4 linked regions of the Homo sapiens genome follow. The protein of the gene in region 1 binds, or shares a complex with, the protein of each later gene. Each region holds a gene or a part of one and is shown in the gene's direction. Other genes may lie near its edges.

Evidence for each region.
Region 2: NUP188 (region 1) and NUP107 share a complex: the UniProt entries of both Homo sapiens proteins name them as parts of the nuclear pore complex.
Region 3: NUP188 (region 1) and RANBP2 share a complex: the UniProt entries of both Homo sapiens proteins name them as parts of the nuclear pore complex.
Region 4: NUP188 (region 1) and NUP205 share a complex: the UniProt entries of both Homo sapiens proteins name them as parts of the nuclear pore complex.

Annotation. Positions count from the first base shown.
Region 1 is NC_000009.12:128,943,603-128,950,698, forward strand, and holds the start of NUP188 (nucleoporin NUP188), read left to right. Parts: upstream 1-4,096; 5' UTR 4,097-4,117; coding exon 4,118-4,149; intron 4,150-5,586; coding exon 5,587-5,641; intron 5,642-7,096. Other genes in the region: DOLK (dolichol kinase), read right to left, coding at 2,085-3,701. UniProt on the Homo sapiens protein: Component of the nuclear pore complex (NPC), a complex required for the trafficking across the nuclear envelope. Required for proper protein transport into the nucleus.
Region 2 is NC_000012.12:68,689,965-68,696,988, forward strand, and holds part of NUP107 (nuclear pore complex protein Nup107), read left to right. Parts: intron 1-638; coding exon of another isoform or gene 639-666; coding exon 667-782; intron 783-2,003; coding exon 2,004-2,148; intron 2,149-6,854; coding exon 6,855-6,958; intron 6,959-7,024. UniProt on the Homo sapiens protein: Plays a role in the nuclear pore complex (NPC) assembly and/or maintenance. Required for the assembly of peripheral proteins into the NPC. May anchor NUP62 to the NPC. Involved in nephrogenesis.
Region 3 is NC_000002.12:108,778,471-108,785,494, forward strand, and holds part of RANBP2 (E3 SUMO-protein ligase RanBP2), read left to right. Parts: intron 1-2,798; coding exon 2,799-2,959; intron 2,960-3,657; coding exon 3,658-3,931; intron 3,932-4,057; coding exon 4,058-4,392; intron 4,393-5,125; coding exon 5,126-5,431; 3' UTR 5,432-7,024. UniProt on the Homo sapiens protein: E3 SUMO-protein ligase which facilitates SUMO1 and SUMO2 conjugation by UBE2I. Involved in transport factor (Ran-GTP, karyopherin)-mediated protein import via the F-G repeat-containing domain which acts as a docking site for substrates.
Region 4 is NC_000007.14:135,553,324-135,560,916, forward strand, and holds the start of NUP205 (nuclear pore complex protein Nup205), read left to right. Parts: upstream 1-4,593; 5' UTR 4,594-4,621; coding exon 4,622-4,649; intron 4,650-7,593. UniProt on the Homo sapiens protein: Plays a role in the nuclear pore complex (NPC) assembly and/or maintenance. May anchor NUP62 and other nucleoporins, but not NUP153 and TPR, to the NPC.

The DNA of each region.
Region 1 (7,096 bases):
GCCACCCTGGGAGTCCGTGGGGCAAAGCTGGTGCTCTTTCACCAACATTTTGCTGCTTCCTTTTGCAAGCAATAGGAGGGAGCCTAAGAGAAGGGAAGCGTCTCCATTGAGTCCCAAAGAAATGTCTCAATACTCTCCTCTGAGGGAAAGGACATGGCAGTGATTCTCAAGCAGAAGCTTCGCTCCCTGGAGCTCTGCTCCCGGCTTCTGGCCTTGGTGGACCAAAGCTCTCACCTCCTCTGATGTCCTCCCAAGCTTGGGGAGAAAGGGAGAACCTTGTCCAGCCTCAGGAATCTTGCTGTGCTATCTTCCTAGTGACGGAAAATGTTTATCCATTCACTATCTGTGTAGTGTACAATTCTGGGAGGGACACAGTGCAGATGGACTCCCAAATCTACTGATTTCCTGCTCCTTGTCAGTGCCCTGTGCTAGCCTTGGGGGATGGGGTGGGGAGTGAGGCAGTGCCGGAGCCTGTCTTCCCAGCCAGAGAGCAAGGCTGCAGCGTGGGCCCCTCATACAGTCATTTTACCTCTCAGGAAACTCCCCCAGCCCCTGTGGATCTTTCCTACCTTAGGAAAAGACAAACACAGGTTTGGATAGGATTAGAACATGGAAAGGTCTTAAGAAGGGCCCCTTGATGAGGTCCTGGTGCTGTTCAGCCCATCTTTCTCTATGGACACCACTCAGTGGGACACCAGAGGCGGGGTGGGGTTGGCTAAAACAAGATCCAGCCCAAGCAGGATCTGATCCTCCCTCAACCCTGCCAAAGTTGACCCACCTCTCCCTTCAGTAATTCCTAGCCCTCTGCTCTTTCCCTCAGGAGTTCTCCACCTCCAAGTGAAGCCAGGAGAGCAAAGGTCACTCTGGTTTCCAAGTGGTTTGCCCAGCTTTTCGGCTTTTCACTAAGATGAGGACTGGTCTTTGGTAAAAATGACTCCCTTTCTGACTGCTTATCAAGGGTGGGCTCTAGGCTGGACCCTCACAACACCCCGCGAGGTGTGGGCTGTCATTACTCCCATCTGCAAGAGAATTGAGGTTCAGCCTGGCTAAGTGACTCACCCAAGGTCACAAAGTTGTTTTTTTGTTTTGTTTTGTTTTGTTTTGAGACGGAGTTTCGCTCTTGTTGCCCAGACTGGAGTGCAATGGCGCGATCTCAGCTCACTTCAACCTCCGTCTCCCAGGTTCAAGTGATTCTCCTGCCTCAGCCTCTCTAGTAGGTGGGATTACAGGCATATGCCACCACGCCTGGCTAATTTTGTATTTTTAGTAGAGACAGTGTTTCTCCATGTTGGTCAGGCTGGTCTCGATCTCCCGACCTCAGGTGATCCACCTGCCTCGGCCTCCCAAAGTGCTGGGATTACAGGCATGAGCCACCACGCCTGGCCATTCAAGGTCACAAAGTTAGTAAGAAGCTGTGCAGCCAAGGATTCTGACCAGATTAGTTTGACCCAGAGACTAAAGTGTTAACCATTATGCTTTACTCCCTCCAGTGTCCACTCTGGCCTCCTCCGAGGCTGCAGGGCGAAAGAGGGGGCTCTATAGCACACTCAGGTTCTTTGAGTTGCTGGACTATCCCTTAAGACTCTTTTCTTTTTAAATATCAGCAAGGCTGGGATGGTGGCTCACGCCTGTAATCTCAACACTTTGGGAGGCCAAGGTGGGCAGATCACCTGAGGTCGGGAGATCGAGACCAGCCTGACCAACATGGAGAAACCCTGTCTCTACTCAAAATACAAAATTAGCTGGGCATGGTGGCGCATGCCTGTAATCCCAGCTACTCAGGAGGCTGGGACAGGAGAATCGCTTGAACCTGGGAGGTGGAGGTTGCGGTGAGCCGAGATCGCGCCATTGCACTCCAACCTGGGCAACAAGAGCAAAACTGTCTCAAAAAAAAATAAAAAAAAAAATATATCAGCAAAACTAGAACTAGGAGAGCTTTGCTTTTTATTTTAAATCTGAATCAACTGAAAAATCAAATCTGCTTTTCACACCTTGGCTCTTCATGCCCAAGTAGCTGTCTGCTGTGGGGACTGTTCACCCTCCCCATGTCTGTTTCCTCCGTCACTGCTGCTGCACTGTAACAGCTAGGCCATCAGCAATATCAGGAGGTAGAGAGGCAGAAGGAGATTGTCTATCTGTGTAGTGTATGCTTCCAGGAGGGACACAGTGCTGATGGACCCCAAAATCCAAGCATAACTGTAGTTTAGGTCCACTCCACTGTCAAAGATTAAGATCAGAGCTACAGAAATGATCTGCGCAAATATAGATGTCATGGTCCCCTCAAAAGTCTTTTTGGTTCCAGGCCAGCGGATCTCCCCCATGGTGCTACCGAAGATGGAGGCCACAGTATCACCCACACCCACAGCCAGGACACCGGCATAGGGGACGAGGGCCCTGGCTCCTCCCAGGCTACCCTTCTGTGTGCAGGGTCTGGGGATCAGCCAGATGGGAAGAGACATGCCCAGGAGCAGGTAGATGTGTGTCAGAATGAGTGGTCCACTGTCTCGTTCATCCAGAAAAAGGGACAGGAAGCTCCGTAGAGTGTGACCCAAAGGCTTGATGCGGAAGTAGCGCACATACTCCAGGAAGATGAAGACCGCCAGGCATACAGTGGCGGCTACATAGAGCAGTGGCCGGTCAAAGATGATACCTGGGATGTAGGTGGCTACCACAATGAGGTGGAAATACTTTCGGGCGATGGTGGGGGCCTGGTGCTTCTTGGACTCGGAAGATGACCGCTTGGCATTCTGGTACAGCACCACCAGGCAGGCCAAGGTGGCCAGCAGAGACCAATAGGCTAGGAGGTAGATGCGGGTGTCTGTCTGGAAGAGAAACTGAAGAAGCCAGAGCAGGGGATTCCTGCGGATGAGCCGGTGCAGCCAGGGTAGGACCACACCAAGGCTCAGCACACAGGTCATGAGGTGGAAGAAGATGGAGGAGGCCCAGGTGCCTGAGTCCATGAAGACAAACAGAGTGCTGAAGAAAATGCCCATGAGTACCATCCCTACTACCACCACCAGCAGGAAGAAGTCCACTGGGTCCCCCTGACTTTCCACCAGTGTCAGAGAGCGCTTGATGAGCTGGTTGAGGACAAAGCTAATGCCACCCAATACCAGCAGTGCCTCACCAGGGGTGAAGCAGCGGGGCAGCAGGTACAGCAGGATCATGTTGAGATAAACGAAGATCAGAAGGACTTCCAGGACTTCGATCACCTCCCCCACGCTCAACGAGTGCTTCATGATATAAATGATAACACCTCCAGCCAAGCCCAAGATGACACAAGTGTTGGTTGGCACTGGGCGAGTGATGCCGAGCGCCAACACTGATGAGAAGAGGGCCACTGCCATGCCAGTGGCTGCCACCACAATGCCAAAACGCTCAAAGAACGGGTTCCCAGCAGTCTGGCACCGCTCCTTCATGACTAGTCCAAGCAAAGGCATGACCATGGAGGCGGGCAATAGGCCACTGTTTGCGGACATTCGGAACTGGAAGACGGCGCTTCCCTGCTGTAGCAGCCGGTCCCACTTGTATTGGACGTAGAAGGCCTGCACTGCGAGGGCCACGGCGCACCACGAGTATCGGTCCCATACGGTTGCGTGGATGCTCAGCACCACTGCAAACACTACTGCCGCCTCTGCCAGCACCGATCCACTCAGCGGAGCCCCAGGCCCCGGGGCCGGAGATGGGCACTCTCGGGTCATATCTCTAGACCTGGGGCTTCACGGAGGCCGGGGCGACTACGGACGCCCTAGACTTCGGGCCCCTCAGCCCCGTCAAGCAGAGGGAGGCACTTTCACCCGGCCAGCAACCTTCTCCCTCCGTTCTCCAGCAGCGAGGAGGGAACTCCACCGCAGGTCACTTCTGCGGCCTGGGAGCTGGCGCCCGGCCACCCCCCACAGCCTCCAACCTACGGCGTAGACGTCGCCACTCTGCAGCCTTCCTCACAGTTACAGCCGCCCCCGCTGCCGGCTCCTCACCTCTTTGGGCCTCGCCATCTTGGCACCGCCCCGCGGCAACGTCACGTGACGAAATCCCCGCCCACGCTCCGGGTCCGGGGGCGAGCGGTCACGTGGGCATGGCGTCTGGGGGCGGGGTTAGGGCGAGCGGGCGCGCGAAGATGGCGGCGGCCGCCGGCGGGCCGTGTGTGAGGTGCGGAGCGGGTCGAATGGACCGGGGTGGCTGTGAAGCGCGGTGTCAAAGCCGAGCGGAAGCGGGGCGGGAATTGGAGGCGGGATGTGGCGACAGTGGCAGGGCCAACCCCGGCTGGATGGACGGGCACCGAGACGGGAGGCGGTTACGTCCAAACGGTCCCCGCGCGCGGGGATCTGAAGAGTCTTCTTCAGGAGGGGGGCCGGCTCTTCACCCCTTCCCTCCGCGCTCGGCCTCCCATCTCCTCACCCAGGGCCCTTTGCCTTCCTCCTCTCTCACCTCCGACGCGTCTCTTGGCGCCCCACCCGCGCTTCCTTCTCCGGCCGTGACGCTCCCTCGAGCCACGGGGAGCTTTGCGGTCTCCTGGGGTACCCCCCACCCACGTCCCTGCTGCAGGCTCCCAGTGTCCTGCCCCGGCGTCGAGTGCGCCCTGCTGGCTCCCCGACCTCTCCCGCGATCTGTTCTTGTTAGGATTTTGTTTCGCGTTGAGCGGAGCCACGCTTGCGGCTTCTGTCCTCTCCGCGCCTCGTATCGTTCTTTTCTTGCACTGAATCAAGTCAGCCAGCATGTCCAAATCCTCCAAGAGATTTCAGGGATTGAACTAGGCTTTAGGGACAAGAAGATGAAATATTATATACGAAAACTACAATTCTGACAAAGTGCTTTCTAGCGTCAGACCCTGGTGGAGCGCTTCCCAGGAGTTATCTCATTCAATTCTCGCAACTCCGAGAGGCGCCTTCTATTTCACAGATGACTCAGAAGTCCGGCTCAGAGCTAGCCAAGTGATAAAGAGAGCCTTCAAGCTGAAGTCTGCGTACCTCCAGTGCTATAACCAGACCACCACGCCTCCTTCTGTCTTCCACATTGCAGCTCGAAGGTCTTCGTTCTTCCCACCACCCTCCCTCAAAGTTAAACATCCCCGTCTCTTATCCTTCCCTGTGCCAGCAGTGTTTTCCCCACTTTTTTTTTTTTTTTTTTTTTTTTTTTTTTTTGAGACGGAGTCTCGCTCTGTCGCCCAGGCTGGAGTGCAATGGCACGATCTCGGCTCACTGCAAGCTCTGTCTCCCGGGTTCATGCCATTCTCCTGCCTCAGCCTCCCAAGTAGCTGGGGATACAGGCACCCGCCACAACGCCTGGCTAATTTTTTGTATTTTCAGTAGAGACAGGGTTTCACTGTGTTAGCCAGGATGGTCTCGATCTTCTGACCTCATGATCCGCCCGCCTCGACCTCCCAAAGTGCTGGGATTACAGGCATGAGCCACCGTGCCCGGCCCTAACAATATTATTATATAACAAGATTACTTTCCAAAAATTTAACAAATCGTTTTGTATATTGAGATTTTTTGCTTTTAGAGAGCAGACAAAATGGCTATGAGGCAGTGTACAAGTTTGTATGATCAGAAAGAGCAAAATTACCTCTGTTCTCTCATTTTGCAGGAGCAGTAGAGAACTGTGGACTATTCTGCTTGGAAGGTCAGCTCTGAGAGAGCTGGTAAGTGGTGGTGTTCTTGAGTGGGTTCTCTGGGTTCTTTGTGTAGCTTTTGTTACCAAAAAAAACCTTTTTTTAAATGTAGGAAGTAAACACATTTATTTATTTAGAGACAGAGTTTCGCTCTTGTTTCCCAGGCTGGAGTGCAATGGCGTGATCTCGGCTCACCGCAACCTCCGCCTCCCAGGTTCAAGCGATTCTCCTGCCTCAGCTTCTCGAGTAGCTGGGATTACAGGCATGCACCACCACGCCCGACTAATTTTGTATTTTTAGTAGAGATGGGGTTTTTCCATTTTGGTCAGGCTGGTCTCCAACTCCCGACCTTAGGTGATCTGCCCTCCTTGGCCTCCCAAATTGCTGTGATTATAGGCGTGAGCCACCACACCTGGCCTATTTATTTATTTTGAGATGGAGTTTCACTCTTGTTACCCAGGCTGGAGTGTAACAGCATGATCCCAGCTCACTGCAACCTCCGCCTCCCGAGTTCAAGCGATTTTCCTGCCACAGCCTCCCGAGTAGCTGAGATTACAGGTGCATGCCACCACACCTGGCTAATTTTTGTATTTTTAGTGGAGACAGGGTTTCACCATGTTGGCCAGGCTGGTGTTGAACTCCTGACCTCAGGTGATCTACTTGCCTTGGCATCTCAAAGTCCTGGGATAACAGGCGTGACGGCCACTTTTTTTTTTTTTTTTTTTTTTTTTGAGGGGGGTGTCTTGCTCCCAGGCTGGAGTGTAAGTAGCTCGATCTTGGCTCACTTCAACCTCTGCCACCTGGGTTCAAGTGATTCTCCTGCCTCAGCCTCCCCAGTAGCTGGGATTAGAGGTGCCCACCACCACGCCCTGCTGATTTTTATATTTTTAGTAGAGACAGGGTTTTGCCATGTTGGCCAGGTCGGTCTTGAACTCCCGACCTCAGGTGATCTGCCTGCCTCAGCCTCCCAAAGTGCTGGGATTACAGGCATGAGCCACCACACCCGGCTACGTTTTTTTGTTGTTGTTGAGACAGAGTCTGGCTCTCGCCCAGGTTGGAGTGCAGTGGCACGATCTTGGCTCACTGCAACCTCTGTCTCCTGGGTTCAAGTGATTCCTGCCTTAGCCTCTCAAGGAGCTGGGGATTACAGATGCATGCCACCACGCCCGGCTAATTTTTGTATTTTTAGTAGAGATGGGGTTTCACCATGTTGGCCAGGCTGGTCTTGAATTCCTGGCCTCAGGTGATCTGCCCACCTCAGTCTCCCAAAGTGCTTGGATTGCAGGCATGAGCCACTGTGCCTGGTATAAACACTTTTTTTTTGTTCCTAAAACTTTATAAACGTGGTCAGATGCAGTGGCTCATGCCTGTAACCCCAGCACTTTGGAAGGCCAAGGCAGAAGGATCAATTGAGTGCACAAGCTCAAGGCCAACCCTGGCAAGATAGCAAGACCCCGTCTCTACAAAAAATTTTTTAAAAAATTA
Region 2 (7,024 bases), on another chromosome or scaffold:
AAGGCCAGGAGTTCAAGACTAGCTTGGCCAACATGGCAAAACCCTATCTCTACTAAAAATACAAAAATTAGCTGGCGTGGTGGCACATGCCTGTAATCCCAGCTACTCCGGAGGGTGAGGCAGGAGAATTGCTTGAACCCGGAAGGCAGAGGTTGCAGTGAGCTGAGATTGTGCCACTGTACTCCAGCTGGGGCGACAGAGCAAAAAAAAAAAAAATCCCAGTTCCATTATTTACATACTCTTTTTTTGTTCTGAGACAGAAAAAAAAGAGTATGTAAATAATGGAACTGGGATTCAAACAATGATCTGTTTACTCCAAAGTTTATGCCCACTACACTGCACTGCCTCAGTATGCCTTATAAAATTAAAATATGAAGAATCCGTTGACTGATTAGTGTCTTTAACTGCTCAGTTATTCTATAATGAAAGCATCTGTAATTGCAGTAAAATGTTTCCTGTTAGGCTCAGTAGTACCTACAGCTCAAATTTAGAAAAATAAGTTAAATCCTTGTATCATGGAAATGTTAACATTTAAAGTATTTATTTGGTTAGAGTCTAAATAATGGAAAACTGAAAAATTTATTCTTCATTGTTTGTTTGCTTACTTTGTTTTGATAATGAATGCTCACGCACTTTAGGTTCTTTCTACCAACCTTTTGTTTATAGTTACCCCAACAAGCCGAAGCTTACTAAGGCAGCCAGATATTTCCTGCATTCTTGGAACAGGAGGGAAGTCGCCCCGACTTACGCAGTCTTCAGGGTTCTTTGGAAATCTCTCCATGGTATGTAGAAAAATAGGGCTAAGAACTCCTTTTGGGTCGAGTGTGGTGGCTCACATCTGTAATCTCAGCACTCCCTGAACTCCTGACCTCAAGTGATTCTCCCGCCTTGGCCTCCCAGAAGTCAGGAGTTTGAGACTAGCCTGCTTAGCATGATAAAACCCTGTCTCTACTAACAATAAAAAAATTAGCTGGGAGTGGTGGCTTATGCCTGTAATCCTAGCTGCTCGGGAGGCTGAGGTGTGAGAATTGCTTGAACCCAGGAGGCAGAGGTTGCAGTGACCTGTGATTGCAAAAGAAAAAAAAAAGAGAAAAAAGAACTTCTCCCTTTTTATAAAAATATGATATTTGATGTAAAAGTCTTTTAACAAATATTGAGTCAGAATCATCATAACAGTAACTTTAGGTTATATGGATTGAAATAATTAGACAGTAAAAAAACTGAAAACCTTATGCATCTGATATCACAGATGGAAACTGTGACACCAGCAACCTTTAGATGAAAATAAGATGTTTTAATCTGTCAGTTTGCTGACCAGAAGAAGTACATGCTGTGGTTGGTTGCTGATGGCTATAAAATCTGATCCCTGTTTTGAAGCATACAAGAGTAGGAATCAGAGGTTAACAGATGAAGAATATCTTAAGGAAGAGATAAAATGTATTAAAGGGGATAAAAGAGAAAATTGGAAAAAGTAGGTGAGATACTCTTTAGGAATCACTATGGAACAGTATTAAAAATAGCAAAAGAAATGTTATGTAAGCTGTGATGCAGAATGACTTCACCTAAGTATTAAAAATACACTATAGTAGCCGGGCATGGTGGCTCACATCTGTAATCCCAGCATTTTGGGAGGCTGAGGCAGGTGGATCACATGAGGCCAGGAATTTGAGACCAGCCTGGCCAACATGGTGAAACCCCATACCTACCAAAAATACAAAAATTAGCCAGGCGTGGTGGCACGTGCCTGTAGTCCCAGCTACTTGGGAGGCTGAAGTGGGAAGATGGCTTGAGCCTGAGAGGCAAAGGTTGCGTTGAGCCATGATCGTGCCACTGAACTCCAGCCTGGGCAACAGATCCAGACCTTATCTCAAGAAGGGAAAAAAAAAAAAAAAGACGCATACATACATATAATTTTTAGAAACCTTATTTGTTTTTAAAGTATCCACTCAGTGACAATAACTCCATCACTTTTCTGTATTTTTACTTTTTTGTTTTTTTTTAAGGTTACTAATCTGGATGACAGTAACTGGGCAGCTGCATTTTCATCACAGCGTTCCGGGCTGTTCACAAACACAGAGCCCCACAGTATAACAGAAGATGTAACTATCAGTGCTGTTATGTTACGTGAGGATGATCCTGGAGAAGCTGGTAAAATGGCATTGAGCTTTGTGACAAGTAGCTTTTCACTTTAGCAAGATGAAGGAAACCATTTCTTCCTGTTTCTGAACGTCATTATGTTTTTCTTTTCTTTCTTTCTGTCTTTTTTTCTTGAGAGAGTAGCTTAAACAACAGATTTTTGTGTGTGTGTTTTTTGAGACAAGAGTCTCACTCTGTTGCCGGGCGCGGTGGCTCATGCCTATAATCCTAGCACTTTGAGAGGCCGAGGCGGGCAGATCACGAGGTCAGGAGTTCAAGACCAGCCTGGCCAACATGGTGAAACCTCGTCTCTACTAAAAATACAAAAATTAGTTGGGTATGGTGGTGCACACCTGTAATCCCAGCTACTTGAGAGGCTGAGGCAGGAGAATCGCTTGAACCCGGGAGGCAGAGTTTGCAGTGAGCTGAGATCGCACCATTGCACTCCAGCCTGGGCTACAGAGCAAGACTCCGTCTAAAAAAAAAAAACAAAAAAAAAAACAGTCACTCTGTCACCCAGGCTAAATGCAGAAATGCAGTGGCACAATCATGGCTCACTGCAGCCTTAACCTCCCAGGCTTAAGCAATTCTGCAGCCTCAGCCTCCTGAATAGTTGGGACTGCAGGCATGTACCACCATGCCTAGCTAATTTTTTTTTTTTTTTTTTGAGATGGAGTCTCGCTCTGTCACCCAGACTGGAGTGGAGTGATGGGATCTTGGTTCACTGCAACCTCCGCCTCCCAGGTTTAAATGATTCTCCTGCCTCAGTCTCCAGAGTAGCTGGGATTATAGGCGTCTGCTACCACACCCGGCTAATTTTTGTATTTTTAGTAGAAACGGGGTTTTGCCATGTTGGCCAGGCTTGTCTCAAACTCCTGACCATGGGTGATCCACCCGCCTTGGCCTCCCAAAGTGCTGGGATTACAGGTGTGAGCCACTGCGCCTGGCCGCCAGCTAATTTTTTATTTATTTATTTATTTATTTATTTTTTTTTTTAGACGGAGTCTCACTCTGTTGCCCAGACTGGAGTGCAGTGGTGCAATCTCGGCTCACTGCAACCTCTACCTGCTGTATTCAAGTGATTCTCCTGCCTCAGTCTCCTGAGTAGCTGAGATTACAGGTGCCCACCACCACGCCTGGCTAATTTTTGTATTTTTAGTAGAGAGAGGTTTCACCATTTTGGCCAGGCTGATCTCGAACTCCTGACCTCAAGTGATCCGTCCTCCTCAGCCTCCCAAAGTCCTGAGATTACAGGCGTAAGCCACTGTGCCCAGCCTAATTTTTTATTTCTTTATAGAGACAGGGTCTACAAAGACCAGCCCAGGCTGGTCTCAAACTCCTGGACACAAGTGATCCTACCGCCTCAGCCTCTCAAAGTGCTGGGATTATAGGCAACAACATAAATTTATTTTCTCACAATTCTGGAGCCTAGATGTCTGAGTTAAAGGTCTTGGCAGGGTTGGTTTTCTCTGAAGCCTCTTCTCTTGGCTTACAGATGGCTGTCTTCCTCCTGTGTCTTCATCTGGTCTTCTGTCTATAATATATTTTTCCTTAAGCTAATTAGTTGTGGTTATGGCAATGGTATTTGATACAGTATCACTAGAAGGTTGAGAACCTCACCTTGGTTCTCAGTCTGAGCAGCATCTTGCCATTTTATCTTTTAATGTAAATAGCAGCCTGTTACGTTATTAGACAAGTCTCATATTGTAATTTTTTTCTTATTTGTGCTGTTGAAAGAGCATCTCTTTCTTTAGGTTTAGTTCTTAATCTAACATTGTTGATGTGTTTTGTTTTCTCCTGGACCGTAATGCTGTTATTTTTTTTCAGATAGTGTTATGACCACTGTACAAGCATTAACTCATGTAATCCTTATGGTGGTCCATTAAATAGTTACAATAATTATTCCCATTTTAGAGAAAAGGAAACTACTGCTCAAAGTGGTTAAGTAACTTACCTCAAACCACCTGGCTAGGAAGTAGTGGTACCAGGATTTGAAACTAAGCAGTTTAGCTCCAGAGCCCTGCTCTTAACACTTTGGTAACTACTACTTTCTTGTAGTATCTGTCAAAAACAGGTACTCGTATTAAGTGACTCAAAATACTTTCTACTTAGGCCAAGTGCCTGTATTTTCCCAGAGTGGAACATGCCATTTAGTATGTATTATAACTTTCTCCACTACTTTGTAATGGTGTGCTTAAAATATAATTCAGATATTTTTAAATCTGGCTCAATTTCTTAAGTAATTGTTTATAAAATAACTAGTATATCTTTGAGATCTTAAAAGACCTTTAGGTATCAAAAGAAAAAATAGATAAATTGGGCTACATCAAAATTTTAAACTTTTGTGCACGAAAGAATACAATCAGCAAAGTGAAAAGGCAACCCACAGAATGAGAGAAAATATTTGCAAATCATATATCTGCTTAGGGGTTAATATCCAAAATGTATAAAAACTGCTACAACTCAACAACAAAAAAACAACCCAATTTAAAAATGAGCAAAGAAATAGAATAGACAGAGGCTGGACGCAGTGGCTGATGCCTGTAATCCCAGCAATTTGGGAGGCTGACGCGGGTGGATCACCTGAGGTTGGGAGTTCGAGACCAGCCTGACCAATGTGGAGAAACCCTCTCCCTACTAAAAATACAAAATTAGCTGGGCATGGTGGCGAATGCCTGTAATCGCAGCTACTCGGGAGACTGAGGCAGGAGACTCGCTTGAGCCCGGGAGGCAGAGGTTGCGGTGAGCTGAGATCATGCCATTGCACCTCCATCCTGGGCAACAAGAGCGAAACTTCATCTCAAAAAAGAAAGAGAGAAAGAAAGAAATAGAATAGACACTGTTCTAAAGAAGATTCACAAATGACCAGTAAGCACATGAAAATATACTCAAATGTCACTAATCATTAGGAAAATCCAAATCAGAACTACAGTGAGTTACAAGATACTGCCTTACACCCGTTAGTGTGGCTACTGAAAAACAAACAAACCAACAACAAGAACAAAAACCCAGAAAATAACAAGTATTGACAACAATGTGGAGAAATTCAAATCCTTGTGCACTATTGGTTGGAATGTAAAATAGTACAGCTGCTATGGAAAACAGTATGGCAGTTCCTCAAAAAATTAAAAATAGAATTACCATATGATCCAGCAAACCTGCCTCTGGGTATATATCCAAAAGATTGGAAAGCAGAGTCTCAAAGAAATATTTGTACATGCATGTTCATAGCATGATTCATAGTAGCCAAAAGGTAGAAGCAAGCCAAGTACCTGTTGATAGATGAATGGGGGAAACAAAATGTGATCTATACATACAGTGGAATATTATTCAGCCAAATATGAAGGACATTCTGACACATGCTACAACATGGATGAACCTTGAGAACATTATGCTAAGTGAAATAAACCAGTCACAAAAGGGCAATACTCTATGGTTCCACTTACATGAGATATTTAGAATAGTCAACACATGTAGGGACAGAAAGTAGATGGATAGTTGTCAGGGGCTGGGGTAAGTGGAGAGTGGGGAGTTAATGTTTATTAAGTACAGAGTTTCAGTATTACAAGATGAAATAGTTCTGTGGATACATAGTGGTGATGGTAGCACAACAATGTGAATGTACTTACTGACACTGAACTATACACTTAAAAATGATTAAGCCAGGGATAGTGGCTCATGCCTTTAATCCTACCACTTTGGGATGCTGAGACAGGAGTTAGCAAGACCCTGTCTCTACAGACTAATAAAAAATTAGCTGGGCATGGTGGCTGGTATATACCTATAGTCCCAGCTACTGGGGAGGCTGAGGTGGGAGGATCACTTGAACCTAGGAGTTTGAGGCTATAGTGAGCCATGATTGCACCACTGTACTCCAGCCTAGGTGACAGAGCAAGATCCCCCTCTCTTAAAAAAAAAAAAAAGAAAAATGATTAAGATAAATTTTATATTATGTGTATCTTGCCAATTAAAAAAAATTTTGAGGCTGGGTGCGGTGGCTCACGCTTATAATCCCAACACTTTGGGAGGCCAAGGTGGGCGGATCATGAGGTCAGGAAATCAAGACCATCCTGGCTAACACAGTGAAACCTCGTCTCTACTAAAAATACAACAAGTTGGCTGGGCATGGTGGCACGCACCTGTAGTCCCAGCTACTTGAGAGGCTGAGGCAGGAGCACCGCTTGAACCTGGGAGGTGGAGGTTGCAGTGAGCTGAGATTGCGCCACTGCACTCCAGCCTGGGTGACAGAGTGAGACTCTGTCTCAATTTTTTTTTTTTTAATATAGCAGTGAATTTATAAAAGACTTGTAGCCATTTAAATTTTCAAACAGGCTGGGTGCGGTGGCTCACGCCTGTAATGCCAGCACTTTGGGAGGCTGAGGCGAGCAGATCACCTGAGGTCAGGAGTTTGAGACCAGCCTGGCCAATATGGTGAAACCCCATCTCTACTAAAAATACAAAAATTAGCTGGGCATGGTGGTACATGCCTGTAATCCCAGCTAGTTGGGAGGGTGAGGCAGGAGGATCACTTGAACCTGGGAGGTGGAGGTTGCAGTGAGCTGAGACCGTGCCATTGCACTCCACCCTGGACAACAAGAGTGAAACTCCATCTCAAAAAATAAATAAACAAATAAATACATTTTCAAACAAACGGAATTACCTAGAAGTACGTCACTTAACTTTTCTTTATTCCTTTTTTTTTTTTTGATGTGTTCTAGCATCCATGAGTATGTTTTCTGATTTCCTGCAGTCTTTTCTGAAGCACTCTTCGAGTACAGTTTTTGATCTTGTGGAAGAGTATGAAAACATCTGTGGTAGTCAGGTAAGCTAATTTCACTCCGTCGTTAGTCAAACTTCAGTATTTTTAGTTTTCATAAACAGCATTAAC
Region 3 (7,024 bases), on another chromosome or scaffold:
TCAATCTTATTTTCTCTAATGTCTCAAAGCTTGCCAAATTAATTATTCACTTACAGTAACATTACTGTAGGCCCAGTTATGACCTGTGAGACCCAGATATTGATATATTACAAATACTTTTACAAGTGGGTGATTCTAATGTGTTCCCAGGGTAGAGAACCACTATTTTGAAATAATTTTGAATTCTTCTGCCACATGTCCCTTGGGGTTATTTTTTAAATTTTTGCTTTTGGCAAAAAAGTTGCTGAACAATTTTGTTTTTGTTTTTGTTTTTGAGACAGGATGTCACTCTGTTGCCCAGGCTGGAGTGCAGTGGCATGAACACAGCTCACTGCTGCCTTGACCTCCTGGGCTCTAAAGCAATCCTTCCACCTCAGCTTCCCAAGTAGCTGGGACCACAGGTGTGTACCACCATGCCTAGCTAATTTTTACATTTTTTGTAGAGACAGGGGTCTCACTATGTTACCCAGGCTGGTCTCAAACTCCTGGGCTCAAGCAGTCCTGCCACCTTGGCCTTGCACAGTGCTGGGATTGTAGGCATGAGCCACTGCACCTGGCCCTGAACAGTTATTTTTGAGCCCCCAAGTTGGTATCTCATCCAGATCAGTGGTTACTGTTCTCAGGAAGTTCCCATGCAACCTGTGGCTTTTGTTCTCAGATCATTCCTTTGCAATATGTCCTTAAGAATTTTTGTCTTTCTGTCTCTTTTTTTTGAGACGATCATTCTGTTGCCCAGGCTGGAGTGCAGTGGCGCAGATCTCAGTTTACTGCAACCTCTGCTTGCTAGGTTCAAGTGATCTCCTGCCTCAGCCTCCTGAGTAGCTGGGATTACAGGCATGCACTGCAACACCCCGCTAATTCTTTTAGTATTTTTAGTAGAGATGGGGTTTCGCCATGTTGGCCAGGCTTGTCTCGAACTCCTGACCTCAAGTGACCAGCCCGCCTCGGCCTCCTAAAGTGCTGGGATTACAGGCATGAGCCACCACACCCGGCCCTCTCTCCTCTTTAAAAACATTTTTTTTTCCCCTCCATTAAATCTGTCTGAAAGAGAGTTGATTTTTTATTGTGTTCTTTAAGGTACTGAGTTATGTATCCTGTGACATTTTTTCTTTTTCATGAGAGTTTTTAGCAGAAGGTGTAGGGTTCTTTAAGACAGTGATTCAGCAAGTGATAAAAAGTTGAGAGGTGTTTCTTTCCTCTAAGATAGTGGGGACTTGGTCATCTAAATTGAGGTATGGGATGGAGAAGTTTCTAGTTTTCACCTTCTTGCAGGTATGCGAGAGTGAGACCATCATTGTTCCCCCATACAGAAGTAGGATGCTTAACAATCTAATACCCTTTGGGCAGTTGAAGTCAGTGAGATTCTCCCAAGGCTGCTTTCCACCAGCCCAACCAAGAAATCTACATTCCAGCATTAGCTTCTTCAGGAAGAAGTAGAGATGCAGAAATTATAAACATGTTTAGGCCATTGTGGCTAATTTGGAAGTAGCAGGTTTGGCCTGCTGAGCTAAGTTTACAAAATTTCAAGGTGGGTACTTGAAATTTTAGAAGTAGGTAAAAAGAACCTACTTCTTTACTTGGAAGTCCTTGTGTAGTTTAGTATTAGGAAGTTTATCCAAGGCAGTGACAGTCTTATCTTTGTATCGCTAAGCATAACAATAATAAATGTACTCTGTACTCAACAGTATGAGTTGAATTTACTAGCTTTTTTTTTTTTCCTTTTTTTCCTTTTTTTTTTTGGTGACAGAGTCTTGCTCTGTCACCCAGGCTGGAGTACAATGGCACGATCTCTGCTCATTGCAACCTCCGCCTCCCAAGTTCAAGCGATTCTCCTGCCTTAGCTTCCTGAGTAGCTGGGATTACAGGCACCCGCCACCACGCCCGGCTAATTTTTTTTTTTTTTTTTTTTTTAAAGACAGAGTCTTGCTCTGTCGTCCAGGCTGGAGTGCAGTGGGGCGGTATCTGATCACTGCAACCTCTGCCTCTCAAGTTAAAGTGATTCTCCTGCCCCAGCCTCCTGAGTAGCTGGGATCAGTCACCCATGACCACACACTGCTAACTTTTTTTTTTTTTTTTAAAGACAGAATCTTGCTCTGTTGCCCAGGCTGGAGTGCAGTGGGGCAATCTCAGCTCACTGCAACTTCTGCCCCCCAGGTTGAAGCGATTCTTCTGCCTCAGCCTCTCAAGTAGCTGGGACCACAGGCGCATACCACCACTCCCGGCTTTTCTTTTCTTTCTTTCTTTCTTTTTTTTTTTGAGACGGAGTTTCACTCTTGTTGCCCAGGCTGGAGTGCAATGGTGCCATCTTGGCTCACCGCAACCTCCGCCTCCTGGGTTCAAGCGATTCTCCTGCCCCAGCCTCCCGAGTAGCTGGGATTACAGGCATATGCCACCATGCCTGGTTAATTTTGTATTTTTAGTAGAGACGGGGTTTCTCCATGTTGGTCAGGCTGGTCTTGAACTCCTGACCTCAGGAGATGCGCTCACCTCGGCCTCACAAAGTGCTGGGATTACAGGCGTGAGCCACTGCGCCCAGCCTAATTTTTGTATTATTAGTAGAGATGGGGTTTCACCATGTTGGCCAGGCTGGTCTCGAACCCCTGACCTCAGGTGACCTCGGCCTCCCAAAGTGCTGGGATTACAGGCGTGAGGAATTTACTAGAATAATATAATTTTAAACATTTAAAATTGATGTACATATTACATCATCAGGAATTAGAGGGATTGATAAAATAAGAGGGGGATGAAAAATGTAAAAAATAGATACTAGTGTTTAAATATCCTGATTTATTCATCAGATAAAAATTTCCAATGGGCAAATACTGGAGCAGCTGTGTTTGGAACACAGTCAGTCGGAACCCAGTCAGCCGGTAAAGTTGGTGAAGATGAAGATGGTAGTGATGAAGAAGTAGTTCATAATGAAGATATCCATTTTGAACCAATAGTGTCACTACCAGAGGTAAATGTTAAGGAATTAACCTTTTACTAATAACTTATTTTTCATTTTTAAGTTTTACCCTGGCTTGATCTGTCAGGGTATAATTGTTTGCATTTAAGAATGTTTACTGTTTGAAATGGAAGCTCTATTTATTAGATGTCTAGCCTTTAAGTATAAATTATCTTTTTACAGTTTTTACATAAATATTGGTTTGTAAATTCTATATGTAATTATTGGTAAGAAATAATTTTTTCTTATGTTTCTAGAATATCATGTTTGTTTTTATAACATGATTCTGGGGAAAAATTAACCTCATACTCACTAAAGTCCTTTCAATAAATGTTAACCTTGTATGTTTTTTGGACAAGAACATTGTTCTAGGAAAATTACTTTGTCATTTTTTAACCTCAGTCAGTAGCTAATATTTCTCTTCAGTAGCAAACACTTTTGAAACCTCTCTGTCCTATAAAGAAAAGCATTTAATTTCCAAAGGGAAAATGAATATTATATAAAAGAAAATGTTTAATGATAAATCAGGTCTTTACTCCCTCAGCCAAATCAGATATATTCCTAGCCCTAAGATATATAACCAGTTATCACATTAACAAATTCTCTTTGTCATCACAAAGAAAATGCCTTAAAAGAATTTGGATCTTTGAAATTTGTCATGGAATTTATTATAAGCAGCAGCTTATAGAGAATTTCATCTCCTATTATAGGTAGAAGTAAAATCTGGAGAAGAAGATGAAGAAATTTTGTTTAAAGAGAGAGCCAAACTTTATAGATGGGATCGGGATGTCAGTCAGTGGAAGGAGCGCGGTGTTGGAGATATAAAGATTCTTTGGCATACAATGAAGAATTATTACCGGATCCTAATGAGAAGAGACCAGGTTTTTAAAGTGTGTGCAAACCACGTTATTACTAAAACAATGGAATTAAAGCCCTTAAATGTTTCAAATAATGCTTTAGTTTGGACTGCCTCAGATTATGCTGGTGAGTTTTTACATTCAAATGCTACTTTTCATTTTTTGGACTTTTCTAAAATCTATAACAAACAAAACAACTTATAACAGTTATTTTAATACTAAGGTCACTGCTTCCCCTTTCCCTCCCTGCCAGATGGAGAAGCAAAAGTAGAACAGCTTGCAGTGAGATTTAAAACTAAAGAAGTAGCTGATTGTTTCAAGAAAACATTTGAAGAATGTCAGCAGAATTTAATGAAACTCCAGAAAGGACATGTATCACTGGCAGCAGAATTATCAAAGGAGACCAATCCTGTGGTGTTTTTTGATGTTTGTGCGGACGGTGAACCTCTAGGGCGGATAACTATGGAATTATTTTCAAACATTGTTCCTCGGACTGCTGAGAACTTCAGAGCACTATGCACTGGAGAGAAAGGCTTTGGTTTCAAGAATTCCATTTTTCACAGAGTAATTCCAGATTTTGTTTGCCAAGTAGGTATTATTAAGTACATACCACAATTGAGGTCTTGAAGAGTGCACCACACTAATGGGAAATTTGAGTGTTTTTCCTTGACCTCATCCTGTAGTTTTGTTAAAGATTTCTTTAGGTTTTCCACACATGGAATCACATGGCATCACTACCCATTCCCTGCTCCTGCCTAAAACTTTCAACCTAAAATAATTGAGGCTGGGCACAATGACTCATACCTGTAATTCCAGCACTTTAGGAGGCCAAGGCAGGCAGATTGCTTGAGCCCCGGAATTTGAGACCAGCCTGGGTAACATGGCAAAAATCTCGTCTGGACAAAAAAATACAAAAATTAGCCAGGTGTGGTGGTGTGCGTCTGTGATCCCAGCTACAAGGAAGCTGAGGTGGGAGCATCCAGGAGGCCAAGGCTGCAGTGAGCTAGGTTTGCACCACTGCACTCCATCCTGGGCGACAGAGTGAGACAGCCTGTCATTAAAAAAAAAAAAAAAAAAAAAAAAAAAAATCAAATTTTCAGTACTTGAGATCTAGTAGAAACTAAGGGATGGGAAAAACCTTTTCATTTTTCATCTTCTTTCCAACAATATGAATTTCTTAGTTTTCAAACTATACTCAGGAAAGCTGGGCTTTAGGATTTAACATGTAGTGATGAGTTCTGTGTGTATTTTAATATTTTACTCAGGATTCCTATTAATTGAAAAAAATTTTTAACTTTTTTATTATAAATCTTTTTTTCAGGGAGGAGATATCACCAAACATGATGGAACAGGCGGACAGTCCATTTATGGAGACAAATTTGAAGATGAAAATTTTGATGTGAAACATACTGGTCCTGGTTTACTATCCATGGCCAATCAAGGCCAGAATACCAATAATTCTCAATTTGTTATAACACTGAAGAAAGCAGAACATTTGGACTTTAAGCATGTAGTATTTGGGTTTGTTAAGGATGGCATGGATACTGTGAAAAAGATTGAATCATTTGGTTCTCCCAAAGGGTCTGTTTGTCGAAGAATAACTATCACAGAATGTGGACAGATATAAAATCATTGTTGTTCATAGAAAATTTCATCTGTATAAGCAGTTGGATTGAAGCTTAGCTATTACAATTTGATAGTTATGTTCAGCTTTTGAAAATGGACGTTTCCGATTTACAAATGTAAAATTGCAGCTTATAGCTGTTGTCACTTTTTAATGTGTTATAATTGACCTTGCATGGTGTGAAATAAAAGTTTAAACACTGGTGTATTTCAGGTGTACTTGTGTTTATGTACTCCTGACGTATTAAAATGGAATAATACTAATCTTGTTAAAAGCAATAGACCTCAAACTATTGAAGGAATATGATATATGCAATTTAATTTTAATTCCTTTTAAGATATTTGGACTTCCTGCATGGATATACTTACCATTTGAATAAAGGGACCACAACTTGGATAATTTAATTTTAGGTTTGAAATATATTTGGTAATCTTAACTATTGGTGTACTCATTTATGCATAGAGACTCGTTTATGAATGGGTAGAGCCACAGAACGTATAGAGTTAACCAAAGTGCTCTTCTCTAGAATCTTTACACCTCCTGTGTGGTTACAAGTTAACTTTGTAAGTAGCGTACCTTCCTTCCTTAAAATATCTAGCTTCCTGTGCCCTTTCATAGATATTCGATTAATTTTTACATTTTAAACAAGTTGACTATTTCCTTTAGGGGTTTTGTTTCAAACTTTTCTGTCATCTGTCTCTACTACCTCAGAAACTGCAGCTTGGTTCTGATGATAGAAATTGAATTTTTCCTTGTAGTTATTGTGATAAAGTATGAATATTTTTAGAAAGTCTATACCATGTTCTTTCGTTAAAGATTTGCTTTATACAAGATTGTTGCAGTACCTTTTTCTGGTAAATTTTGTAGCAGAAATAAAATGACAATTCCTAAGAGCCACTGACATCCAAAAAATTCATTACTTACGCTTCGGGTTCATTCTAAAGTAAGGAAGACAATTTAAAGGCAGTAAATTCAAACTGCTGCATAATTTCCAGAGCTCCTAGTTTCTCAAGTTTGATACACACCAAAAACGTATTTGGAAATGGCTTGTATCAAATGTTAGGCAAATTGCTAAAGAAAAGAGGATGTTCTTATTGGCCTACTCAATATGGAACTACAAAGAATCCAGGTAGAACACAAAATTTTGTATATTGCAATTATGAATATTGACTGTCTTCCACCCATCTGTGTTCTTTCGGGTGAAATTACCTCATTTTATTTAGTGAGGAAAGACAGGTTTATTCCCTGTTACATGGGGATTTGGAAATTGGGTATCCTAAAGCAAGTAACTGTTCAACCACCAGTCAAAAGAGGGGAGGGATGTTGTGCGAGTAATGAGTGATGGTATACCATCACCATTCCACTCGGCCACAAAGCCAGATACTTGAAATAAACCTACTCCAAATGTATCAGTTCAGTCTTGAACCATGGATTACATATGTTTACACTAAATATTTCAAATTGGCTTATTTGGAAATCTATGTAATATAAACTGATGTAAAGTGTGTTGTAACTTTTCAGCTGAGACAGTTGATGCCTTCGTCATGATTTTAGAATAAATTCTTAAGTTAATGCAAGTGCTTTTTAAGAGACTTT
Region 4 (7,593 bases), on another chromosome or scaffold:
GTACTGAGGATCCAAAATAGCCTCACTAATGTTCAACATTTCAGCTAGGGTCTGGAATGGCTAAGGGTTGGCTAGGCCTCTCTCCTCATGGTCTTTCGTCCTCAAAAAGACAAGCTCGAGTTTCCTTACATGGGCAAAAGAGCAAAAAGGAAGTAACAAGGTCTCTTAAATCCTGGGCTTGGAAGTGCCCAACATCACTTCCTCTGCATTCTCCTGGTCCAAGCAAGTCAGAAGGCCAACCCAGATTCAATGTGGCAGATGATTACACAATGGCTTCAATTCAGGGACCTGTGATTCACTGAGGGCCTTTTAATAACAATCTACCACAAGAAGCTAACAGTTTTAGTGAGGAGACAATTGTCATAGCACATTGGGACGTAATAAAGATGGGAAAAAGTGCAATAGGTCTGCAGGCAAAGAAACACCCGAATTTGATGGGGCAGGGGATCAAGGACAGCATCATGAAGGCAGCATTAACACAGGCCCTGAGACTTGGAGAGCAGATCATGTTTGGAGGTTAACTTGGTGGGTGGTCACAGGTGAATAAGGAAGGGAAGGAAGGGCAGTCCAGGAGGACAGAATAGCAGGTGCAAAGACATTGATACATGGCAAAAGAAAGCATGTTGTATTTGGGGATAACAAATAGTTCAGAATGATTAGAGTAAAGGGCTCTTGAGGAAGAGTGTGGAAGGCTGAAGAACGAGGCTGAACCATATCAGGAAGTGTCATGAGTGCCTTGCTAAGAAGATTTTAAATGATACTCTTAGTAATAACTCTTAGTAATAGAAGATCATTGAGAAATTTTGATCAGAACAACCACATCATGTGTTTTTTTTTTTTTTTTTTTTTTTTTTTTTGAGACAGAATCTCACTCTGTCACCCAGGCTGGAGTGCAGTGGTGCGGTCTCGGCTCACTGCTATCTCCGCCTCCCTGGTTGACACCATTCTCCTGCCTCAGCCTCCTGAGTAGCTGGGACTACAGGTGCCCTCTACCATACCTGGCTAATTTTTTGTATTTTTAGTAGAGATGGGGTTTCACCGTGTTAGCCAGGATGGTCTCAATCTCCTGACCTCGTGATCTGCCCGCCTCGGCCTCCCAAAGTGCTGGGATTACAGGTGTGAGGCACTGCGCCTGGCCATATTTTTTTTTCCTTTTTTTTGAGACAGAGTTTCACTCTTCTTGCCCAGGGTGGAGTGCAATGGCGTGATCTTGGCTCACCGCAACCTCTGCCTCCCGGGTTCAAGCAATTCTCCTGCCTCAGCCTCCTGAGTAGCTGGCATTATAGGCATGTGCCACCACGCCCAGCTAATTTTGTATTTTTAGTAGAGACGGGGTTTCTCCATGTTGGTCAGGCTGGTCTCGAACTCCTGACCTCAGGTGATCTGCCTGTCTTGGCCTCCCAAAGTGCTAGGATTACAGGCGTGAGCCACCGTGTCCGGTCATGTTTTTTTGTATTTAAAAATCACTTTCAGGCTGGGCACAGTGACTCATGCCTGTAATTTCAGTGTTTTGGGAAGCCGAGGTTAAGAGTTCGAGACCAGCCTGGCTAACATGGCAAACCCCCGCCCCCCGCCATGTACTAAAAATACAAAAATTAGCCGGGTGTGGTGAAATGCCCCTGTAATCCCAGCTACTCAGGAGGCTGAGGCACAAGAATCGCTTGAACCCGGGAGGTGGAGGCTGCAGTGAGCCAAGATTGCACCACTGCACTCCAGCGACAGAGTGAAACTGTGTCTTGAAATAAATTAATAAAATAAAATAAAAAATAAAAATCACCTTAGGAGTCCATGAAAGGAAGATCAGATGGAAATAAGAAAGACAAATGAGAAGGCTATTGCAAAATACCAAGTTTAAGAAGATGAGACTTGAACAATGGCATAGAAAGCAGAGAAGAGGAAAAGGGTTCCAGAAATATTTGTGAGGTAGAATGAACAGGATTTGACAATTGAAGGAAGAATACAGAAAGAATCCCAGGTTTCCGATTTTGGCAACTGGGTGGGGATACAGGTGGCAGAGTTTTAGGGGAAAAGTGATCATTTACGTTTCAGACATGTTGGTTTTGAAACGCCTGTGTGGCAATCAATACAGATATGAAGTAGAGAGTTGGTTCTACAAATATGAAGCTCAAGAGAGAGGACTGGACTAGAGATACAAACACAGAATTCATCAGCAAGCAGGTGGTAGTAAGAAACCATAAGATGTCCCACAGAAAGCATGTAGAATGAAAAGGACAGAAACTAGAGATGACTATAGGGGAAGAGCTAGATTTAGTGGGTAGAAGAGGAAGAGAAGTCCACGTAAAACACTAAAAAAGAACTGGAAAGAGGAGGAAAACCAGTATCATTGGTGCCCCAGTAGCCACAGGATAATATAATTTTGTTTCTTTCTTTTTCTTTTCTTTTTCTTTTTTTTTTTTTGAGGCAGAGTTTTTACTCTGTTACCCAGGCTGGAGTGCAATGGTGCGATCTCGGCTCACTGCAACCTCTGCCTCTGGGGTTCAAGCGATTCTCCTGCCTTAGTCTCCCAAGTAGCTGGGATTACAGGAGTCCTGTCACCACGCCCAGCTAATTTTGTATTTTTAGTAGAGACAAGGTTTCACCATGTTGGCCAGGCTGGTCTCGAACTCTTGACCTCAGGTGATTCTCCCACCTCAGCGTCCCATAGTGCTAGGATTACCGGCGTGCGCCACTGCACCCGGCCTATAACTATCATAATTCAGAAAAGTGCCCATGGAATTTGATGACTGATAACTGGTAAACATACCAAGCGCAGTTTTAGAGGGGCTTATGATGGCAATATCCCAATTGCTACGAATTGAAGAAGCCTGTGAGAGAATGCTTGTAAAGTGTAATGACAGGTGAAGAGGAGTTGCTGGAATTTAAAGAGTTACTTTATAGAAAGCAAAGTTATCTACTGAGAGGGAAGCGTGTGGGCTTAAAAAGTGCATGTGGAGAGGGAAAGGCTTGTAATAGCTGTGCTGAGAGAGAAATCTTTGAATGCCGCTTCCTGTCAAGTTCCTGCTCAGTATTCTTCTCAGTTTCATGATAAACTTCTTGAAAAATTCCTTTGCGTTTACTTTCTCTCTTCCCCACTTCACTCCTTAAAACCACTTTAATCGTAGTTTGGCATTTGTCTCTATATATCAATGACTTTTAGAAAAAATCACCAGTGATTTTTGTGTTTCAAACCTAATGTACATTGTGTCACTTGATATTATTTGTTCAAAAGAATAAATGTTCTGTTCTGGATATTCTTTTTTTTTTTAAATGGAGTCTCACTCACTCTGTTGCCTAGGCTGGAGTGCAGTGGTATGATCTCAGCTCACTGCAACCTCCACCTCCCGGGTTCAAGGGATTCTCCTGCCTCAGCCTTCCGAACAGCTGGGGTTACAGGTGCGTGCCGCCATGCCTGGCTAATTTTTGTATTTTTAGTAGAGACGGGGTTTCACCTTCCTGGCCAGGCTGGTCTCAAACACTTGACCTTAAGTGATCGCCTGCCTTGGCCTCCCAAAGTGCTGGGATTACAGGCATAAGCCACTGCGCCCTGCCAGTTCTGGATATTCTTAACATACTCTATGCTTTTGTCTAAATTATTTGATTCTGATTTCCAACAGTGAAATGGGAATGATGGAGAGTTAATACAATGAGATTGTAAGGCACATGGAGCGTCTCTGACATAAATAGTTATAATCATATCATTTTCCCAATAGAATGGTTTGCAGGGATTAAATGAGATAATGGCTATAAAATTTTTCTTAATACATAGCTGTAAATAGCAATGATTATTTACATTTTAGTTTGAAAATCAGCAAACTAAAATTTAACAGCTGAAGAAAGAGTTCAGCTACTTTGGGTGCTCAGGTAGAAAAATACTTGGTGATTATGAAACGATATGTCTGGAATCTGTTTCAAACTAATCGGGGGCGGGGGGTGGGGAGGGGAGGGTGTTGGGGTGGTAAGGGTGGGTTGGGGCTGCCGTGGTGGGAAATTGGCCACGTTATTGATGCTGAGTGTTTGCTATTCTAATTTTGTATCCGTTTGAAAATTTTATAATTAAAAATTATGATTTGTTTCGCTCTACGCAACTATGTTGACAGAATATATTTGGTAAACTGAAATGTCACGGAAACTTAGTTTGTAACCGGTCAGTGGCTTTTTGAGGTGTAGACACTTCATACCTTACTTCACTCCCCACTGTAAGGAAGATTTAACTTGAAGCGGAGATAATGATTTGAATTTACGGCTTTTATAATGTCATAAATGGGCGTCATTTTAATAACTACTCTCAGAATATCTTTTTCTATTCCACTTTACTTTTTCCTCTCCACTTAACCAACTCATCATTAGAAACTACAAGTCCCAGGATGCACTACACGATGAACGTCGGATCGAGGACCTCGTGTCTCTGAAGTGGTTGCCCTCGCCTTATTTGAATGGGAATAATCCCAATGAAAATTGATGTTTGTGACCCAGAGCAGATTCTGGAGCCTTTTGTACGCCTGGGACGGCCCAGCGTGGAGGGGACAGTGTGGTGCCTTTTTGTTCAGGCTTCGCTCAGGTCAGCCTCACCCTTTCCCGGGGCCTCCATGCGGCAGAAGGGCTCTGTTAGTGCGCCTCTAAGATGGCGACGCCTTTGGCGGTAAATTCGGGTAAGTGTGGCCAGACAGAAAGACGATTGAGCTGAGCGATAACCAGGTCTTCATGGAGAGACGAGACCGTGAGGTTTCTCGGAGTCTAGGACCCCACTTATGTGCGGTGCCTGCTTTTCCCTAATTCTGGGCCTAGAGTCCCACCCCTCCCCAGTTTGAATGGCGCGCGTCGGTGCTGCGGCTCCAGCCCTCGAGTTGGGGTTTGAGATTCCAGGCAGTGAGGCTTGGGCCGCTGGACCCAGGTGTGTAATCTCTCACAGCCCAGGGCTGAGTCTGGTCCCCCTCACCCCCAAGTTTCACTGTGCGTCTGTGGTCCCGATTTCGCTGGAATACGCATCAGGTCTTCCACAGTGAAGCCAGAGGACCCGAGATATTTTCCAGCCATGAGCAGAGGCTGAAAGTAGGCGTCGGAGTTCCTTATAGGGTGGGAGATCTTGCAGGCAGCGAATACTCCCTATTATGAAGTCGGCCATCTGAAAGGTGGTCAGGAAGAGGGTGGCGGGGCTTCAGCAGACGTCTTCTAACCCTGCGGATGTGGTTAGGCCCTGGATGTTCTTGTACCTTTGGAGCTGTAGATTTTCGGGGTGGAATTGAATCTAGAAGGTAGTAAAGGAACTCTGGAAGATTTGGGGTGGATCCTCTTTCGGTGATTCTCAATTCGGGCCGTACCGCCCTCCAGTGGTGTTTGAATGAGTGAGTGCATTTTGATTGTCATATTTCCTGGGGTACACTGCTGTCGCATAGTAGGCGGGGCAAGGATGCAGAAAGTCCTTCATGGTCAGAGCAGTCCGGAAAAATAATTTGGTGCCTAGAATGTTAATGCCTCGATTGAGATGCTCTGAAGTTCGCGGGCAAGATTAAGAGTATATCTGTGTGGTAAATGCTTGTGAGAATCTCACTTAAAAGGACTCTTTTTTAAAGTATTGGTTCTATTTTCCACAGGACTGATATTCTTGAAAAGTTGTCTAAATCTGTTTTGTAAATCAAATCATTTCAGAAAAGCTATGATAAATTATAATGAAGGCTATGTTTACTGAACACATACTATATCCCAGCATTGCACTTATTATCGTGCTTATCTCATTCAGTTCCCGTTTATACACCTTTGGAGTAGTTACTGTTACATACTCCGTTTTACAGATTTGGAAATAGAGGCTTCAAATAGTTACGTAATGTCCCCAGAGTTAAACATCTAATGATCTAAGTCAGTCTTAGGTGCTTAAACTACTTAGTGCTACTGCTTAAGCACAACCTAATTCATTTTATGATATTAGACGTATATATTAGAAGGTTAGTAATGAAGTTACATGCTTAATATTGCGGTCCTTCCTTCCCAATTAGATATGCTTAACGTGTGGTTGTATATAATACATTTCTCTATTTTATTTTATTTTTTAATTTTTCTTTTTGAGATGGAGTCTTGCTCTGTCTCCCAGGCGGGAGTGCAGTGATGCGATCCGCGATCCTGGCTCGCTGCAACCTCTGCCTCCCAGGTTGAAGCAATTCTCCTGCCTCAGCCTCCTGAGTAGCTGGGATTACAGGCATGTGCCACCACGCTGGGCTAATTTTTGTATTTTTAGTAGAGGTGGGGTTTCTCCATGTTGGCTAGGCTGATCTCGAACTGCTGTCCTCAAGCGATCTTTCTGCCTCGGCCTCCCAAAGTGGTAGGTTTACAGGTGTGAGCCAGTACGCAAGGTATACACATTTATTTTCCTTTTTTTTTTTTTTCTTTTTTTGAGATGGAGTCTCATCCTGTCCACCCAGGCTGGAGTGCAGTGGCGTGATCTCGGCTCACTGCAGCCTCCACCTCCTGGGTTGGAGCAACTCTCCTGCCTCAGCCTCTGAAGTAACTGGGATTACAGGCGCCCGCCACCATGCTTGGCTAGCCTGGCTAATTTTTTTTTGAGATGGAGTCTCACTCTGTTGCCCGGGCTGGAGTGCAGTGGCACGATCTTGGCTCACTGCAACGTCCGCCTCCTGGGTTCAAGCGATTCCCCTGCCTCAGCCTCCCGAGGGGCTGGGATTACAGGCGCCCGCCACTACACCCAGCTAATTTTTTGTATTTGTAGTAGAGAAGGGGTTTCACCATATTGGCCAGGCTGGTCTCGAGCTCCTGACCCCGTGATTCACTCCCTTCAGCCTCCCAAAGTGCTGGGATTACAGGTGTGAGCCACTGCGCCTGGCCAATTTTTTTTGTATTTTTAGTAGAGACGGGGTTTCACCATGTTGGCCAGACTGGTCTCAAACTCCTGACCTCAGGTGATCCGCCTACCTCGGCATCCCAAAGTGCTGGGATTACAGGCGTGAGCCACTGTGCCTGGCCTATATACATTCCTTTAGTACATACTCGCCCTAAGCTATTATAATTATTAAACAAATCATTGGAGGGAAAAGGAGTTGCCAACAGCAGCAAAGAGTGTACATTGTATAATAAAGCCTTGTGTCAGGAGTGTTTAATTGGCAACATAGGAAACATTTTTAAAAGCCAAGAGTCAGGAGCTGGTTTTTTAAAAAACTAAACGTCTTAGGGAAGGAACTCTTTTTCCATCAAGGAATGAATGTTGGGTTGAGTGGGTAAAGGAAATGTGTCATATACATGCAATATGCATAATACATATACATGCATATACATAACATAACGTATACATGCATATATATAGTATCCTTATGCAGCCTTAAAAAGGAAGGAAATCCTGTCACATAAAACAACGTGGATGAAACTTGAGGACATACTAAGTGAAATAAGCCAGTCACAAGACACAAATACTACATGATTCCACTTATATGAGGTATCTGAAGTAGTCATACTCATAGAAACAGAAAGTAGAATGGTGGTTGCCAGGGGCTGGGAAAGGGGAAAGTGGGGAGTTGTTTAGGGGGCATAGAGTTTCTGTTTTGCAAGATGAAAAAAGCTGTGAAGATCTGTTGCACAATGTGAATACAC